2 linked regions of the Homo sapiens genome follow. The protein of the gene in region 1 purifies or fractionates together with the protein of each later gene. This does not show direct contact. Each region holds a gene or a part of one and is shown on either strand. Other genes may lie near its edges.

Region 1 (6,923 bases):
GGCAAACATAGAATTCATAAAAAATTGTCCAAAGTAGAAATGATGACCTATAATTTGGAGCATTTCCAATTCAGTAATTTCAATTTTGCTCTTGAAAACATTTAATATATATCCAAGACTGACATTTCTTTAGCTGAACCTAACGTTTGGGTCTCTGAGTGAATTTATAATAACTCCTTCCTTCCTTAGCATAGGGTTTTCAAAATTTGATTTATAATTCCTATTTCCAGTAAATATTGTTCATTTGTCCACATCTCTCCCTATGATATGTTGCTGGAGGTAAGAATTTCTTTCATATTCCTATTTTTTTTTTCCCCATAGACTAGGCTCATAGAATTTAAACAAGCAAATTTTCCTGAGCTTTTTCTTGCCAAATGAAAGAAGACTGGTAAATTCTCATAGAGAGGTTTGTGTAGTTCTTGGCTCTTCCTGGGGTTAATGTGCTTATATTCACAGTGGCAAATTGGTCTCAGACTTTAATTTATTTATTTTTGATTTGAATTTCTCTTTAAAAGTATCAATTTAAAAGGTAACTAGAATTATTCTTTCTCATTTTCAAAAGTGATTTTTGCATTATTAAATTTCCCTGCCATTGTAATGCCATTTCACGCAGAAAAAAAGTCAGCCAGTAATTAAGAAAAAAAGTGATGGAGATTAAGTAGTATTTTGGCTTATTTTTAGGACTCATCATGAGAAGACACAGTTCCTTTAATCAGGAAATTAATATCCATAATTTTCACTCAAAATTGCAGTATGTAAAGCAGATTCTCAAAAACTCTCCTGAACACTTATTTATATATATGTTTTTATATAAGTAAAATTTTTCTCATATTTTTATACGATATGCACACACACACATACATGCACATACTACTTACTACATGTTCTGTACTTGTACTTTGTACCATGCATATTCAAATGTTTATATACATAAGTTTATTATAACATAAACAGTAAAAGTAATGAATACTGTTTAAAATAACTAATATAGTATTTTTTAATTTTTGTGGGGATGGATTCTCAAATACTTGTGATTTTAAAAGATTCTAAAGCTAAAACACAACTTGATTTTAAAAAGAATGATTCTCCTTACACAATTATAAATATTTGCAGTAAATATTTTCCTTATAATACTGTTTTGACCCCATTTAAAAAGTATTAGATTATATTCCTTTGATCCAATGAAAACTGAACCTTATAAATGGTTAGCTGAAAGTAGACCTTATTCTTGTCCTTCTTTAGAAGAGTAAAGATTTGTCCTAGGGAAGATGGCTGACTTCGGTTCCCAACATGCGTATGCATTTAGACTGTAGCTCCTCAGCCCTGTGGACACAAAATTTGGACAGCTTATTAGGTTACGTTAGCAATGCATGACGGTTTCTCCAACACTAAGATATTCACGTTGAAACAGATTTCCTGTTCGTCTTATGTGTCTGGTAAAATTGTTTCCCCAATTACAATTTGACATATCAATAGAGGGTTAACAAGAGTATAATTACATAACAGAATTCCTCATGAACTGTAATCAGTCTACAGGAAAATCATTATTTTATCTTGATTTGCAGATGAATATACTGCTAAGAAAGGGAGCAACTCTGACCTTTGTTAAAGTTGATCTTTTGTAATTGAGGTATAAGGTATGAAAAGATAAAAAACCGAAGGCCAGAGAATCAGGAAATGAAAGATAGTATGGACTGAAGGTAACAATATTTTAATGTTATGCAATATAGTCAGAGAAATATTAAAAATTAGTTGTTTGCTGTGCATAGGTGGATCTCGCAGGAAGCTAATGAAACCTAAGCTTCAGTGCCTCTCACTTAGACATGTTCCATTCGAGGTCCTGAACCTAACTTTGTATTAGGAATTCTGTACTAATTTTGTTGAAGAAGACCAGCAAAGTTGTGTACACTTCTACCCCCACAAAATCTGCATTGTCCATGTGAGTAAAGTAAAATAATTCCTGTTATTTTTTTCTGTTAGAAATAAGTATGGAGGATATGTTTTTAAAAATTTATGAGTTAATTGAAATATCCATATATAACAAGTGACTTTCTCACAATATATATGATGTGATATATAGGGAGATAGTTTCACTTTCATCATATTTTATACGTTGATTCTGAACTATAGAAAAATAATAAATGGGATTTTAATTATAGCTCTTAGTTGGGAAAGAAATATAGAGAGATGTGGGATTTGAATGCCCATGAAAGACATTTTATTTTACTTGAATATATTCTTGCTTCACTTTACCCTCCATAATATGTTGTACATTAGTGCTGATCAAGTTTACAGAGTTACATTTTGCTTTCCTAACCATTCAGTCAGGAATTAAAATATGGCATTGTATAACAACTGGGAAGAAGCTCATAGTGGATATAAATTAGAGTAGATAATGGGTCACCTTGATAGCCTCTGTTTACATTACTTGTATATGGGCAAAATAATTATTACCTATACGTGTATTTAAGCTTAATTTTCATATAAACAGTATTTTTAATCTATGTTAAAATAGATAATATCTAAAAGTGTGATCTCTAGGTAGTCCTTAGTTTATTAGTACTGTACTTCAAAAAGATTTTTAAATAGGTCCGGCACGGTGGCTCATGCCTGTAATCCCAGCACTTTGGGAGGCTGAGGCGGGCGAATCACCTGAGGTCAGGAGTTCGAGATCAGCCTGGCCAACATGGTGAAACCCTGTCTCAACTAAAAATATAAAAATTAGCCGGGCGTGGTGGCAGGCGCCTGTAATCCCAGCTACTCGGGAGGCTGAGGCAGGAGAATCACTTGAACCCAAGGGGCAGAAGCTGCAGTTAGCCAAGATCGCATCATTGCACTCCAGCCTAGGGGACAAGAGCGCGAGACTTCATCTCAAAAAAAAAAAAAAAAAAAAAAAAAGATTTTTAAATAATAGCTAAAGGTATGCTCTCTAGGTCATCCTTAGTTTATTAGTACTGTACTTAAAAATTATTTTTTAATAGTCAATTTTGGGAGATAATTATTTCTTTCCTTATATTTTCCAATTAGTTGGTGTCTAAAAATAAATGTTTTGTCTAATTTTAGATCAGGTATACATTCACAAAAGCATAAATCATAGTCTCACAGGAAATTCACCAATTTTCCATATGTCGTGAGATAACTGTCCTTTCTACAACCTCATAACAATGAATTTATATAATTACCTAGATTTTCTTAGTGTGAATCTACCCATTAGTTTTATTTTCTTGGTAGTTATTTTTTTCCCTCCTCTCTGTTACTATTGGCCTTAAAATACACAGAGGACGGTTACAGTGTCCTAATAGCTGTTACATGTGTGTGTTTCAGCGTACTTGAATCAAGTGTACATTTATAGTACCAATAACCGCCTTTACAGCTTTACAGTTAACAATTCTCTCACAAAACTGTAGAGCATTAGGCATCTGAGAGCCATAGAGGGCCAACTTTGTTCCAGAGTGAACATGCTTTTTTTCCTCAACATATACACTACTGATTTTTTTTAAAAGTATGACTTTCAAGTGAATTAATGTATTGGTTAGGAGAACTGCTTGCTAAGTCCTTATTACCTCTTGTTAAAGCCTCAGAAGGCCGTGCTGAAAGCCAGAGGGGAAAAAAAGAGTAATGCACAGGTATCTCTTTTGCAGTGGTGACTGTATTTTGAGTACCTTGTGTGACAGGGTATTATTACAGCATCTTGTGGGAAAACCTATTAGGCCTTTGCATGTTAAAGCTGTATAATTTGTTGGGTTGTGAGTGGTCTGACTTAAATGTGTATTATAAAATTTAGACATCAAATTTTCCTACTAACTAACTTTATTAGATGCATACTTGGAAGCACAGTCATATCACACTGGGAGGCAATGCAATGTGGTTACCTGGTCCTAGGTTTGAACTGTCTTATTTCAAAAGATTTCTGAATTAATTTTTCCCTAGAATTTCTCCTTCATTCCAAAGTACAAACATACTTTGAAGAATGAAACAGATTGTTCCCATGAATGTATGCTCATACTCGACTAGAAACGATCTATGTTAAATGACTGTGTATATGAATTATTTCAAGTACTACCCCAAATAACTTTCTTATTGCTCTGAAAGAAGAAAAGCAATGTAAATCACTATGATTATTGCACAAACAACCAGAATTCTCCAACAATTTTAAGTAATCTGATCCTCTTCTTGGAGAAAATTGTTACCTAATAGTTTTTCCTTATGAATGTTATTACTACTGGTATAAATCAAATTTCTATAAATTTCCTACTTAAGTCTTAAGAACTGGGTTCTTCCTTTGATGTTATTCATGTTCAGAAAGGAAACAACACTTTACTCTTTTAGGACAATTCCTAGAATCTATAGTAGTATCAGGATATATTTTGCTTTAAAATATATTTTGGTTATTTTGAATACAGACATTGGCTCCAAATTTTCATCTTTGCACAATAGTATGACTTTTCACTAGAACTTCTCAACATTTGGGAACTTTGCAAATATGAGCATCATATGTGTTAAGGCTGTATCATTTAATGCTATGAGATACATTGTTTTCTCCCTATGCCAAACAGGTGAACAAACGTAGTTGTTTTTTACTGATACTAAATGTTGGCTACCTGTGATTTTATAGTATGCACATGTCAGAAAAAGGCAAGACAAATGGCCTCTTGTACTGAATACTTCGGCAAACTTATTGGGTCTTCATTTTCTGACAGACAGGATTTGACTCAATATTTGTAGAGCTTGCGTAGAATGGATTACATGGTAGTGATGCACTGGTAGAAATGGTTTTTAGTTATTGACTCAGAATTCATCTCAGGATGAATCTTTTATGTCTTTTTATTGTAAGCATATCTGAATTTACTTTATAAAGATGGTTTTAGAAAGCTTTGTCTAAAAATTTGGCCTAGGAATGGTAACTTCATTTTCAGTTGCCAAGGGGTAGAAAAATAATATGTGTGTTGTTATGTTTATGTTAACATATTATTAGGTACTATCTATGAATGTATTTAAATATTTTTCATATTCTGTGACAAGCATTTATAATTTGCAACAAGTGGAGTCCATTTAGCCCAGTGGGAAAGTCTTGGAACTCAGGTTACCCTTGAAGGATATGCTGGCAGCCATCTCTTTGATCTGTGCTTAAACTGTAATTTATAGACCAGCTAAATCCCTAACTTGGATCTGGAATGCATTAGTTATGACCTTGTACCATTCCCAGAATTTCAGGGGCATCGTGGGTTTGGTCTAGTGATTGAAAACACAAGAACAGAGAGATCCAGCTGAAAAAGAGTGATCCTCAATATCCTAACTAACTGGTCCTCAACTCAAGCAGAGTTTCTTCACTCTGGCACTGTGATCATGAAACTTAGTAGAGGGGATTGTGTGTATTTTATACAAATTTAATACAATGTCTTACATTGATAAAATTCTTAAAGAGCAAAACTGCATTTTATTTCTGCATCCACATTCCAATCATATTAGAACTAAGATATTTATCTATGAAGATATAAATGGTGCAGAGAGACTTTCATCTGTGGATTGCGTTGTTTCTTAGGGTTCCTAGCACTGATGCCTGCACAAGCATGTGATATGTGAAATAAAATGGATTCTTCTATAGCTAAATGAGTTCCCTCTGGGGAGAGTTCTGGTACTGCAATCACAATGCCAGATGGTGTTTATGGGCTATTTGTGTAAGTAAGTGGTAAGATGCTATGAAGTAAGTGTGTTTGTTTTCATCTTATGGAAACTCTTGATGCATGTGCTTTTGTATGGAATAAATTTTGGTGCAATATGATGTCATTCAACTTTGCATTGAATTGAATTTTGGTTGTATTTATATGTATTATACCTGTCACGCTTCTAGTTGCTTCAACCATTTTATAACCATTTTTGTACATATTTTACTTGAAAATATTTTAAATGGAAATTTAAATAAACATTTGATAGTTTACATAATAAATGTCGTCATGTTTTGCTTTCTTTTTAAGCAGTGTATATTCATTTAAATTGAAGGCCTTAGTTTTAATGATTGATTGAATTTATCTATTACTGATTCCCCAAATTTGTTGGAGCATCCCACTTTACACCAGTTTCCTGTACTAAAAACTGGAAGTGTTGGCAGACCCAGTCTCCTGGAAACACTCTTCTTTTCTTTCTCATGGTCTACATCCATCTGTCCTCTGGTCTGAAATATCTAGCTCCTCTTCTATTTCCACCTGTACAAGTTCAAAATCTTTTCATTTCAGGCCTTTAACAAGAATTTTGTCTTTTATCTCTTTACACTCTCAACTGTTTCCCCAGAATGTTCTTCCTGAAACTCAAATGAGGTCAAAATTTTCAATGGTTTCACATTTATATATATATATATATATATATTTTATTTTGTGGATGGATAAAATTCAAACTCCTCCATGTAACACATAGGGCTTTCCATCACCTGTCACCTTTCTTTCTCCAGCTTTCCACATTCTCGGCAGCCATATTAAATGTGTTCTCAGTGGTTCAATAGCAACAAAATATGATGCCATTATTTCTTTTTACACACTGAATACTCTTACAGGAATTAATTATATTTTCCTCCCCAACTCCCATCTCCTTATTCCACACACAGTTAACTTCTACCCAACATTTAAGTTCAAAAGTAACCTCTTCCAGAAGCCTTCCCCAAGTTGCTTTAAGACCTGACACCTGAACGCATTCATCATCTGGAGCACATCTTTTTTGTAGAACTCATTGAACACTGCTGTAATTGATTTACTGGACTCACTTTTCTGCCTGAATTTGCTGATTTTGTCTTTCGCCAACTGAAGCATAGTAGGTGCTCAATTAATATTTATTAAATGTATAATTTCAGTGCATGCATGAATAAATGACATTCATTAGGTTGCAGGGTTAGCTTTTTTATGATTAGCATAGAAGCAGGTTTTGTTACTCCT
Region 2 (7,670 bases), on another chromosome or scaffold:
TGAACTCCTGGCCTCAAGTGATCCACCCGCCTCAGCCTCCCAAAGTCCTGGGATTACAGGCGTGAGTCACCGTGCCCAGTCACTTAAGACCATTTTGACTCCATTTCCTGCAAGTTCTATTTGATGCATGTAGTAAGAGGTCTAGAGAATCAGGAAGTTACTCCAATAAATAACGCAGATGTCTGTTTGTGCTCTTCCCTAACAATGTATGCAAAATCTTGTACAAGCAATGGCATGCATGAACAATGACTCATTTCTCCAGCACAATTTAATAAAGTACTGTATGTACCATGTGGTGTTGATATGAAAAATTGATATTCTGTAAGCCTGAAATAGTATTTTCATGGTCTTGTCAAATTATTGGGTATTTATCAGAATTCCACTTAGCTAGATTATCTAGTTCCAGAAAAGTATCTTTCAAAGTTAAACTAAAAGGTCCTCTTGATGAGAACATTCTCAGTGTATTCTTTTCATGGAAATGCCTACCTCACTGCACTCAAGGGGGACAGGAGGGGACTATGAATGAGCCACGTCCTGCTCACACTTAATGGCTGAGAGGGGAGATTACCTGTCGCTCAAGACGACTCCCTCGGCTTCAGGGGGAGCGATTGAGAGCTGGAATGGAGTGTTGAAGTAATGCTGCTGCTCATCTGATCGGTGCACGACTTCACCACCCCTGACAACCAGGAAGCCTGAATCGCCCAGGTTTGCTGTGTGTAAGCGGTGGCTGGTTCTGTCCAGCACCACAATGCAGGCGGTGCTGCTACCTAGAAACAAAAATCATCTCCATTTATTTTTTCTTCCTAGGCTGCCTTTGCACACACATTTTAACACATGACCCCACAGAGCAACACACCATAATTTCAATCTCCTTTGCCTAAACAGGACCTTTCTTAGTTATGCTCCACATCCTCTACGAATATCAATAAAATCCTGATCAGGGTTAACACGGTGGGGAAAGAAAAAGGATTTGTATTATACATAGTAATTGGGCCACAGATGATCTGAATTCTTCCATTTGCATTGACAGAAAGCAATAAAAATGACTGGTATTTAATCACACTATTTCATTTCAACAGTGCTGTCATCTATGCCAAATGCTCAAAAACATGTTGTTGAGATATTAAGTTTTAATACTTCAATGCCAGAATGAAAATGTTACATTTTCCCGACATTTCTTATTAGTCATTGGCCACAAAATTCACTCACATTTAAGACAGGGCACATAACTACAATTTTAAACCAGATTTCCATCTGTTGAGGTCAGGAAGAACTTTTATTGGAGACTAATGACTCACTCACTATGAGGTAACAAGACCAAATTTCTGCAGGCAGCTTGTGGAATCAACCTGTTCATTCGACAGAGACTCTGGGCAAAGAACTCTGCATAGCTTTGCTGTGCACGGGCCACAGAATCTTCCCTAGACTGAAAGGCTAATGGCACAACTAGCAGAGACCACTCTCAAGTACTAACAGTTAAACCTACCTACCGCCACCAGAAAAATGGCAACATAGAAAAACAGGCAGTTCACAAAGAAATAAGTGTAGATGATCTGTAAATATATGAAAAAATGACCACCTCACTAGTAACGCTTTTCACCTATTAGTTTAACACGAGTCAAAAGAAGATAATGCATATTGTTGGCAAAGTGTAGGGAACATGCCCACTGCACAGAACATTCATTCTGCGGGAGTGAAAAGTAAAAGTAAACAACTTTCCTGGAGCGCAAGATAGCCCGGAAAAATGTACCTCCTTTCATCTAGCAATTCCATCTCTGAGAATTTACGCTAAGAAAATAATTAGAAGGGCAAACAAGACTTAAGTACAAAAATATTACTTAAGATGAGAAAGAACTGGAAACAATCTAAACATCTAAAATAAGGGACTGGTTAAATAAATTACAGTACATCCATACAGTGCAAAGATACACCATCACGTAATACTCAGGAGTACAGGCTCTGGAGTCAGCCTGCTTCCTGCCTGTGTCTGAATCCCAGCTCTGCCACTTCCCAGCTCTGTGATGGGGCAAACTACTTAACCTCTCTGTGCCCCAGTTTCCTCATCCACAAAAACAGGGATAACAGTAAGTACCTCATAGAATTTTTCTAAGAATTAAAATTAGTTAAGTCATGTCAAACCCTTATAACAGATAGTGTTGGCTATTTTATAGCCATTAAGATTATGTAAAATATATTTGAAAGGAAAGATAACTATAAAATAAGTAGATTACAAACTCATATGAAAGTTTCCTTAACAACAACAAAAAAAGATGATGTCAAAACCTAAAGAACTGTACACCAAAAAGAGTAAAGTTTACTAGAAGTCAATTTTTTTAAAAAAGCAATAGGCAAAGTCTAAATTATTAAAATGATGGTTAAAAGGAAAACAACACAAATGGGCCACGGAACCAGCCATATTAAATCCCAGTGTGCCATCATTTTCCAGCTATGTGACCATGGCAAGTCACTTATTCTCTCCAGACTTGTTTCTTCCTAACAAAATGGAGAATAGTTCAGGCGTGGTGGGTCATGCCTGTAATCCCAGCACTTTGAGAGGCTGAGGCGGGTGGATCACTTGAGGCCAGGAGTTCGAGACTAAGCCTGGCCAACATGGTGAAATCCCCTCTCTACTAAAAACACAAAAAATTAGCTGGACGTGGTGGTGCACACCTGTAATCCCAGCTACTTCGGAGGCTGGGGCACAAGAATTGTTTGAACCCGGGGGGCAGAGGTTTCAGTGAGCTGAGATTGCACCACTGCACTCTAGCATGGGCAACAGTGCAAGACTCTGTCTCAAAAAAAAAAAAAAGGTGGAGGGGAATAAAATTAAGTACCTATGTATTTACCTCATGGGGCTGTTGTGGGCACATAGTAGACTCAATTCAAGTTACCATTATTCTATGCACACATACACACAGAAAAAAAATCTGAAAGCATAATCACTCAAATATTAATAGTTGTTTTAGTGGGATCATGGGTAATTTTTATTATTAATTTTGTCCTAACAAAGTAATTTAAAAACACTTAAAAATATACATGTCTTTCTCATGCTAATGCCCAGAAATTCCATTTCCTTGTTATCTACAGTATATGCGTTAGTACTAACTCATACTATGCTAGCCATTAAGTGTCAACGAAAAGCAAAGCACGGGTACTGTAACTCACTGGTAGTGCTGTCAGATAACCCGCTCCATAGCTTACAGTAGGACAAAGATTGCCCATTACCTTTCCTTCCTAACTCAGTGCACATCAACTCTAACCTTTTATCATTAATAGATCACCACCCAAAACATCTTCTGAAAACTCATGGGATTATATTCTGAGAAAGAAAAACAACCCGAGTAGCACATCCTTGAAAATTCTGCTGCAAGAAGGACTCATGTGACTCCTTATATACTCACTGACGAAGCCAGGCTATCCTTTGCTACCCTGCGACAGTAACTCGCTGAGTTGGAATCAAAACAGTCCTGGTGAGTGACTGAGCTTCAGTATCCAAAGCAGCACCAACAAGTATAAGCCCAGCCTTACAGAACCATCTGGGCTTGGAGTGTACCCTCCTCTTTTGCCTCCTCAAATTCCTGATGTGTGCACGTGGCTCAGGCCCCAGCAGCCTAATATTGGGAGAAGAGCTAATCATTCTCACGTGTTTGGAGAGGCACAAGCAGGCAAAGATGAGTAAGAAAAGCGGTGCTGAGAACCACAGTGTAGGATGTTTAGACAAATGACCCATATAGACAGGAACCCAGGCGAGTCCCTCATGCTCAAATGGAAATATTTTTATCACCCAGCTCCTTATTTTGTAAACTACTACTAAGCCTTTTGTATGGCAGAAAAAGGGATAACTTTATTAGGACCAACCCCTCAGGTTCTTAAGATACTCTGGCTGCTTAGGACCTTATCAATCCATTTAAAGGTTTCTGAGGAAATCATATATGCCAACAATTAGTCTGTAATGCCCTTAGACCCAAACGCAGCTAGAAAGTCAAAGAAATAAGTGGTTACAGCTACCAGCTTGCCTTTTATATTGGAATTGCTTTGTAGGCTTTTTAGCAGTTGCTGGATTAAAAAAAAAAAATTACCTAACTAACTTATCTGGTAAAGTTGTCATGATTTACAATTATATCTAGCTGAAGTTCAGTAAAACTCAGCAGCTTGTCTTTGTCAAAATATGCTTGAGTTTCATTACAAACAGCCTAGAGATGTGTAGATTTTGTGAAAAAAAGGTGTGTCAAACATGGTGATGAAAGATTATTTCAATGTGCCTTTTAGGAGAAAAAAGTAATCACAATATTCAATGTAAGAAAATATTATTTTCTCTAATATTAAATTTAAATGTATTTTATTAATATCTCCCAGTTACATGAGGGTGAACAGAAAGGGAAAGTAGGAATAGGAAAAAGAAAAAGGCACAGCAAAAACCAAAGCTTCTAAAGTGTAAAATCAGGATGGTTACGTGTTTTGTAACCAGTTATCTCAAGTCAAAGTAAATGATCGGGGGTCAGAGGGTCAGCAGAGCCACTCTTGAGAACATGCAGGAGGCAGTCCCCTGGAATCTGTGTCTAGGGGCTCTCTCTCCATTTAACATGTGAAGCAAGGAGATCACAGGTTAAGTGGCTTGCCCAAAGTCACACAGCAAGTTGACAGAGAGGTGCTAGAAATAGCATCTAGAATGTTTCACTATGCCAGACAAGCTCCAGATTGCATGTCCAAAACAGGGAATTAAGACAAAGCAGTATATATTGAAACTGCAAGACAAGATCCCTTTTCAGTTTGAAGGAAAACAAGTTAGTTAATCACAGCACAAAGACAGAAGACAGCAGACTGATAAAAAGAACTCCTTACAAAGGGCTTAAACTGAAAGCAAATTCTATAACAACTGTGGTGATCTCCATTAACGCTAAACAGGGGCTGATTTTTTTTTTTTTTTTTTTTTTTTGGAGATGGAGTCTTGCTCTGTCGCCCACGCTGGAGTGCAGTGGCGCGATTTTGGCTCACTGCAAGCTCCGCCTCCCAGGTTCACACCATTCTCTTGACTCAGCCTCCTAAGTAGCTGGGACCACAGGTGCCCACCACCACACCCGGCTAATTTTTTGTATTTTTAGTAGAGACAGGGTTTCACTGTGTTAGCCACGATGGTCTCAATCTCCTGACCTCATGATCCGCCCACCTCGGCCTCCCAAAGTGTTGGGATTACAGGCGTGAGCTGCCGCCCCTGGCCGAACAGGGGCTGATTTTAAATGTCAATGGTGACTGGGAAGGAGGCCTTCTAGTAACTAGAAAGATGCTGGCTATGAGCAGAAACGTAATAATACCCTCTCTGAGAGACTGCTTAGAAGGCTGGGTAAGTTCCCAGGAAATCATGTAACAAACAAACGTAGAGGCCTGGCCAAAGGATGCTCCATTAGCATACCACATAAACAAACCCTAAATACTTGGTTTTAAGTTTTCTAATACAAGATTATCGGGGATCTAATTTGTGCCAAGTTATTTCACCGACTAATCACCTGTTAGCAGTGTGGGGTGACCAAACACAACTTGAACTCATCACAGGTAATGAACTGAATTTTGCAGGCCAGACCATTTCTTTTCTTTCCTCTTGCTCTTCTTTCTTCTTTTACCAAATTTTAGAATCCCTCAACAATACAGTTTTAACTTTTTATGTTTCTAAACTTGAAATATATGGAATCAGACTGTCAGGTGGAATTCTGCAATGTTCTCTCTTCCCTTCACAACATGTTCCTGAGTAGAACATGCAGCTTTAAGTCGTTTCTTTTCACAATGCATTTTTCTACAACAGATAGACTTTTAGGTTGTCCCCAGTTCTCTGCTATTGGCAACATTTTGAGAACATTCTCATACCTATCTTTTGGTTCACGTATTGTGCAAGAGTTTCTCTAGTCTAGGGTAAACACCTAGAAGTGCAACTGCTGTGGCATACTATATGTTCATATTTAATACCAAATTGTTTTCCGAAGTGGCTGTACCTATCCACATTCCCTCCAAGCAGTACTACGTATTCTGGTTAGCCTATAGTTTCTCTTTTATTTTTTGGAGATGGAGTTTCACTCTTGTGGCCCAGGCTGGGGTGCAATGGCGCCATCTCGGCACACCGCAACATCCACCTCCCGGGGTTCAAGTGATTCTCCTGCCTCAGCCTCCCAAGTAGCTGGGATTACAGGCATGCGCCACCATGCCTGGCTAATTTTTGTATTTTTAGTAGAGATGGGGTTTCTCTATGTTGGTCAGGCTGGTCTCGAATTCCCGACCTCAGGTGATCTGCCCACCTCAGCCTCCCAAAGTGCTGGGATTACAGGCGTGAGCCACTGCGCCCAGCGGTTAGCCTATAGTTTCTCTATCACACTCTGCTTAGTAGGAAGAGCCTCAGAAAAAAGCTGGTCCGATAAATGATTTTCTTGGTTTTGTTTTTAACTATCTAGGGGGCTTCTTTAGAGGAAAACACATAAGATACCCACTTACCGAGCAAAGGGACTTTATTTTGCAGCAACTCACAGTAGCTTGTGGTGAGAATTCCAATGGGATTACTAGGTACGAACCGTCCTTCTTTTACTAAACGTTCACACGTCCGCATTAAAGTCCCTGAGAATTGAGATGGATCAACTCCATAGTCTCTCCAGCCTCCTACACCATCTGCAACCCCTGAAGAAAAAACAAAAATTACAGTAAAAGAACAATCTTACCAACTTCTCAGGAATTCTTACCTCTGTTTTCTCCTAACAGTTAATTTCACTACATGCTACTACATACATTCACTCCAAAATTCAGAATAAAAAGCACTCACGTTTAATGTATTCTACACTAACACTCCTAAGCCACATTCACTACTTAGAATTTGGCCTTTCATATATTGATGAATAAACTTTTGAGCTACCACAGGGTGGCATTGCCTACCAGCCAAGAGTTCAATTTCAGCAGGATTAGCATCTGTGTATAGACATATTTGTGTCATTAATACTTTGTCTTTTATAAGAATGAAAATTGATTTTTAAGCAAAGTGCTGATGCTAGTGACGATACAATTCAGTCAGAGCTGGAGATCACAAAGAACATCAAAAGCGGCAACCTTTTAACTCCAAACATTGGTCAATCGCTGGGAAATAAAGAACAAAACTGAGAACATATCCCATCCCCTCTCCTTCTACCCTGTAGAGGGCGGTACTGTACAATACAACAGCCATTCCTTACATGGTTACTGAGCACCCGAAATGAGGGAAGCCCAACTTGAGACATGCTCTAAGTATAAAACATACAGTGGGCCGGGCGCGGTGGCTCACGCCTGTAATCCCAGCACTCTGGGAGGCCGAGGCGGGCGGATCACGAGGTCAGGAGATCGAGACTGTCCTGGCTAACTCAGTGAAACCCCGTCTCTACTAAAAATACAAAAAATTAGCCAGGCGTGGTGGCAGGCGCCTGTAGTCCCAGCTACTTGGGAGGCTGAGGGAGGAGATTGGTGTGAACCCGCGAGGCAGAGCTTGCAGTGAGCCAAGATCGTGCCACTTCACTCCAGCCTGGGCAATGGGGCGAGACTCCGTCTCAAAAAAACAAACAAACAAACAAAACCACACACAGTGGATTTTGAAAACTTAGTATGAAAAAAAGTAAAATCTCTTTGGGAGGCTGAGGCAGGTAGATCACCTGAGGTCAGGAGATCGA

Evidence for each region. Proteins that work in one complex are often made in the same cells at the same time.
Region 2: the proteins of SLC7A11 (region 1) and PPTC7 purify together in Homo sapiens (affinity purification with mass spectrometry; 2 studies listed by BioGRID and IntAct, with this or other methods). This does not show direct contact.

What each region holds. Positions count from the first base shown.
Region 1 is NC_000004.12:138,163,117-138,170,039, reverse strand, and holds the end of SLC7A11 (cystine/glutamate transporter), read left to right. Parts: 3' UTR 1-5,943; downstream 5,944-6,923. UniProt on the Homo sapiens protein: Heterodimer with SLC3A2, that functions as an antiporter by mediating the exchange of extracellular anionic L-cystine and intracellular L-glutamate across the cellular plasma membrane.
Region 2 is NC_000012.12:110,545,312-110,552,981, forward strand, and holds part of PPTC7 (protein phosphatase PTC7 homolog), read right to left. Parts: intron 6,658-7,670; coding exon 6,478-6,657; intron 768-6,477; coding exon 569-767; intron 1-568. UniProt on the Homo sapiens protein: Protein phosphatase that plays an essential role in mitochondrial metabolism and biogenesis. Positively regulates biosynthesis of the ubiquinone, coenzyme Q. Dephosphorylates the ubiquinone biosynthesis protein COQ7 which is likely to lead to its activation.